Regions from separate parts of the Homo sapiens genome. Here region 1 is linked to region 2. Evidence: fine-mapped expression QTL. Tissue or cell type: whole blood. Region 2 holds a variant in brackets; the other region holds the start of a gene. All regions are shown on one strand. Distances are between the middles of the regions.

Region 1 (2,609 bases), 160 kb before region 2:
CGGAGATGGTAGGACTGGAGATGGTAGGGGCTGCTGATGTGAGCCCACAATACGGAGGAGTGGGGCACAGAGTCCCTAACTGGCGCCCCAACAGAAGGCGGTGGTGGGGACCGGAGATGGTAGGACTGGAGATGGTGGGGGCTGCTGGGAGCCCCTTTTGCGCCGCAGTGTTTCCTGCCATGAAGAGTTGCCGCCGGTCACAACCCTTCCCCGGGGGCGCCCCGAATGTGGGACTCCTTCCGGCCTGGGGTGCGTGAGGGGGACTCAGGGGTTGCCCGGTCTGGAGGAGAGACTCGCCGCCACCTACCCCGGGAACCGCAGACTCTGGGTCTGGGATAAAGCGTCCCCTACCCGCAAGCTCGGTTTGTGCGCTACTGTGCAATCTGTCTTTTGCCTGCAGACGCCCAGCCGCTCGCCCTGCGCGGGTCTCGGAATGTCCAGGGGTCCCTACTGGGGATCACAACCCGGCGAAATGTCGCATTTGCCACCACCTATCTCGACTGCGTAATCGGCTTTCAGCCGCAGACGCTCAGGTCCTGCAGCACCCGCGGGGATCCGTGTAGGAACCTGCTGCCGCTGGATGGACTGAGCGATTGCTTCGCGGGTGTCACGCACCAGACGCCGTGCCGGGAGCGCCGGGAAGGGGGTACGCGCCCCAACCCCGGCCGGGGGAGGGCGCACTCTGGCTCCTCTCTGCGTTTTGAGCCTCCCCTCCCCCGCCAGGCGTATCGCAAAAGGCACCTCCATCGCAGAGCACCATGTGTTGTGCTTCTACTCAGCTCGGTGGCGAGCGGGGCCCCAGCATGCGCATCTGGAAAGCGGGGGAGATTACCCTGGAGCTCGGGTGGGGACGGCGTGGGCTGACTTGATATAAGACGACACCCACGGAGCCAGATCCGTTCTAGGGACTTGGCAGGTTCCTCTCCCTCCCCAGTGAGATCCGTCGTTCTTTGCAGCAATTAGGGGAGGGAAAAAAAAGACCCACAGTATCACGTTTGGAGAGGGTTAGGAAGATGGCTCTCGAGTTGCAGGCCGCCCTGGTGGCTAGACATTGGTGTAGTTTGTGCCTGGCCTCGGTTTCCTGATCTGTAAACTGGGAAGAAGGCCCAAGTCATGAGGCCTGTGACTGTAGAATGGCTGAAGGCACTGGTGCACTCGCAGCCGGTCCTTCCGGGGTCCAGCTTCCCGAAGGACTGGGCAGCCCCGGGGCGAACCCCTCTGGAGCTACCAGGAGAACGTGCGACCGGGTTCGGCGCCCCAGCCGGCAAGTGAGCGCCCAGCGGAGCGCAAGGGCGGGGCCCGCGCGGGCCGGAGACGCCCGTTCGCTGTCGGCCAACCAGCGCCTGTCTCTGAACAGCCAATGAACACGCGTCTTACAGCCAAGGCCGGGTCGGGAGCGAGGCTGCGGCGAGTGCGGCGCTGACAGAGACGCGCGCGCGCGCGATCGCGCTCGGACCCCGGCCGCTGCCGCCATCACTGTCGCCCGCCCAGTCGCCCCTCAGCCGCTTCCCCTCGCCATGGAGGCGAGGCCGCCGCCGCCGCCGCGGGGCTCGGAGCCGCGGGCCGGGCGGCGGCCCTGAGGGCTAGTGGCGGCCCGAAACGCCGCCGCGGAGCCGAGGCGGAGCCGCTGTCCTCGTCCCCAGCGGTCCCGCCCAACGCCCGACTCTGTGAGTGTTCGCGGCCGCTGCGCCCGGGTGGGCTCCGGAAGGGGGAGCGGCTCCCGGGGGCGGTGGGAGGGGTCCCGGGCCACAGCCCAGAGCCCGGAGCCCGAAGCCCTAAGCCATCTTTTCCGGGTAGAAGCCTGCGGGCGCCTGCAGGTTGATTGTGCATCCTTGCGGGTCCGTCGCGGGGAGGGGGTCCCCGGAAACGTGCCGGCCCGAGTGCCGACCCCTCGCGACTGCCCAGGAACTTTGCATGCGTCCTTCTGGGACCAGGCCAGGGCACTGCCAGAGTTGATTCTCAGAGAAGAAACTTAGAACGGCGAGAACAGAATTTGCTCAGGTCCATTTAATGGGAGGAAAGAGGAAAACTCTTGGCATGAGAAAATTTGCTTTTGCAGTGACCAACTTTTCTTTCCCTTCAAGTCCACCTCCCTCGGTCCCCCGGCCCGTCTCCCAGGCCCCTCTCCTTGCCGCCCTCTCCCAACTGTTGAGGCTGTTTAAGAAGGGAAATAAGGGCTGAGAGCTGCCCAGAATTCAGAATAGGCCAATTGAGAACGCAGGTCCCCTCCCTTTTTACTTTCGGTAAATAAAAAATTTTTTTTGAAAAAATTAGTTACTAATTATATCTCCTGAAGATTAAAAAAAAAAAATAGCAGAGCAGAGTCCTGTCTTGAGGGTTTCGTTTTTATTTTTGAGATCACTGATGATATTTGTAAGACAGGAAAAGAAGAATGTGCAAATCCACCCTCTGCAGGGTGAACGCCATCAGAAGCCTTTGCTCAGGAGAGGGATTCCGGCTCTAGAACCAGTCCACATCACCCTGGAGATGGCTTCGTTTGCCACCTGCTAGCTGTGCAGGCAGCCTGAGAAACAGAAGATGGTGGGCGAGAGGAGGACTGACTAGGAAAGGGCGAACATCTTCCTGCCTGGCCACTCCTTTCAGAAACA
Region 2 (2,754 bases):
CAAACTCCTGACCCCAAGTGATCCGCCCGCCTTAGCCTCCCAGAGTGCTAAGATTACAGGCATGAGCCATTGCGCCTGGCCTCCTTCTGCTCTATTTTAATCAAAAGGGTCCACCAGGATGCCTGGGTTCCCTCAGCAGCTGCAGCTTGGACCATCATCAGCCTGGGCAGACAGAGCAGTGCCAGGAACTCCCATGCTGGGTCAACCCTAGGCCTAGCCCAACCCTAGGCCTCATCCTGCTTCTCTAAAGCATAGTGAAACCTGATAGCATTAGTCTTCACAAAGCTGTGTGTCCCCATCACCATGTCCGCCTTAGACCTCATAAGAGACATAAGACATAAGAGACTTCATGCTATCTGGTGGAAAGACAAAGTAGGAGAAAAGACAGAAAACCTTCCCTGTTTCACTTCTTTAAGATGCTATTATCTAGAGGCCGTAACGTGAACACACAAATCTGAGATGAAACTCCAGTCCCCAGCTTTTCTTCTACTGGTCTTGAATCCCCATTCCCCATCTTCTGTCCCTCACCCACTGATGACTTTAACACCTGGCTTACTGCTCCTTTTGAGCCCCTGTTCCTGACTCTGCTTTTGGAGGCATCAGTCACCATGTGGATGATCCATCTATCCTCAATCTTTCTATTCCTCAGCTTCCTCAGCCACCTGATCCCATGGTCAAGTCACCATCTGCCCTGTATCTGCACTGCCCTTGGAATCTCAACAAGGCATCCGCCCTGTTTACTGCCTCCTTCCTCCCACCTCAGTATTCTCTTTTATTCCAGTCATTTTTGTCTTCATCAAGTCCTTAGAGTTATTGATGCCTCCACTTTCTCAACATCAGTCACACCGAACATGTCCTCACCTTCCTCCTTACTCTGTGTGTTTTTGAGTTCTGTTTTTGAGCGTTTGAGTTTTCTGATTTGAGTTTTTGTGGTATGTCATTATTACCTTTCCTTATTCCCTCATGCTTTCTTACTTTCATAGCAAACTCTCTAGTAAAACCCAGTTATATGCCTCTATCTGATATAGCAAACATCACTGGGCAAAAACACAAAACAGTGCCAAATGCTCTCACACTGAACTCATGACCACAAATCTCATAGAGGTAATTGGTGCCACCTAGCAATGCTATTGCTCTTTCTTTTCTTCCTGAAACCTCCAGCATCTGCTCTTGCCTGTCCCATCATACTCACACCTTAGCTTGTGACCTGGCCTCATTCTTCTCCAAGAAATCAGACAAGAACACTGTCATCCTCCCACCCCCAAACAACCAGCCTCTTCAAATCTGTACCAACTCTATTCTCTCTTGTTACAGTGGAAAAGGGTTTCTGCATCTCTCAATCCACCTGTCCACTGTGCTCTTGGCCCCATTCCGTCCTGCCTGCTCAGGGATGTTGCTGCTATAACCATCTTCTCTCCCACCTCCATCAGCAGTTCCCCTCTTTAACCACTACTCTCATCAGCCTATACATGTTACATTTCCTATCTTTTAAAAACAAAAAATCTGCTAATCTCACTTTCCCTTCCACCTACTATCCTATTTCTCTGCACCCCTTCCCAGCAAAACTCCTTTAAAGAGTTGGCTTTCGGCCGGG[C/T]GCGGTGGCTCACGCCTGTAATCCCAGCACTTTGGGAGGCCAAGGTGGGCGGATCACAAAGTCAGGAGATCGAGACCAGCCTGGCCAACATGGCAAAACCCCATCTCTACTAAAAATACAAAAATTAGCTGGGCGCGATGGTGCATGCCTGTGATCCCAGCTACTCGGGAGGCTGAGGCAGGAGAATCGTTTGAACCAGGGAGCTGAAGGTTGCAATGAGCCAAGATCGCGCCACTGCATTCCAGCCTGGTGGCAGAGTGAGACTCCATCTCAAAAAAAAAAAAAAAAGAGTTGGCTTTCTCCCTGCAAGTTCTCTGTTCGCTCTGTTCCTTCCAGGCTTGGCCCCACTGGGACTGCTTTAGTCAAGATCACCAGTGACTGTCCTCTTGCCAAATCCAAAGGTCATTTCTCTTTTCTGATTTTTTTTTTTTTGTCCTTACAGCAGCATTTGAAAGAGTCAGTACCTCCCTCCTCTTCCTCAGAACACTTACTTCCGTAGCATCACCCCACTCACTAACCTGGCAGCTCCTTTGTTATTTCTTTGTGACCTCCTCCTCTAAAACATTGGAGTATACTAGACTCGGGCGCTAGCCCACTCTGTTTTCTTTTGACACACTAGCCCTTCAGGATCTCAGCCAGTCCTATGGCTTTAAGTACAACCCATATGCCAGGGATCCTCAATCTGCGTCTCTAGGCCAGTCACCTGTCCCCCTTCCCAATGTGGGCTCCTGATTTCCTCCTTCCCCCGACACCAGTCCACCCCACTCTTAGCCATCTAAATAAATAGTACCACCTTCTGCCCAGTTGCTCATGTCTAAAATCCGGGAGTTACCTTCCTTCCTCCCCTCTCCTCACCCCTCACATCCAGTCTGCCACTGAGTCCTGATACAGGCAGAGCCTCCCCACTTTTCTCCAGCGTAACTGCTGTCATCTGAACAAGCCCTCGTCTCTCACTGCTTGCCCGTGGGACTGTGGGCATGACTCATATGCGCAGCCTCGTCTGCAGTGGCCTGGCAACTGGTCCTCCTGCTCTCATCCTAACCCACTTTTAGTTTTTCAAATGGCAGCTGCTGGTCCTTTTGAAAATATAAATCATTGTCACTCCTTGTCTTACAAATCCTGTTTGAGGCCAGGTGCGGCAGCTCACGCCTGTAATCCCA

The links. PIP is the estimated chance that this variant, and not a neighbour inherited with it, causes the effect.
Region 1: PTPRA starts here. The variant in region 2 is fine-mapped to the expression of PTPRA in whole blood (TOPMed, PIP above 0.99).

Annotation. Positions count from the first base shown.
Region 1 is chr20:2,872,094-2,874,702 of GRCh38, forward strand. It overlaps PTPRA (protein tyrosine phosphatase receptor type A), which reads left to right and starts at 1,388. Exons shown (of 24, transcript NM_001385305.1): 1 at 1,388-1,667. RefSeq lists enhancers at 1-135, 136-765, 766-1,397, 1,398-2,027 and silencers at 512-651, 1,272-1,341, 1,522-1,571, 1,582-1,861.
Region 2 is chr20:3,030,899-3,033,652 of GRCh38, forward strand. All of the region lies in intron 20 of PTPRA (protein tyrosine phosphatase receptor type A), which reads left to right. Among named protein-coding and RNA genes, the nearest start is that of GNRH2, 11 kb to the right of the region's middle. The variant C/T (reference allele first, on the strand shown) is at 1,595.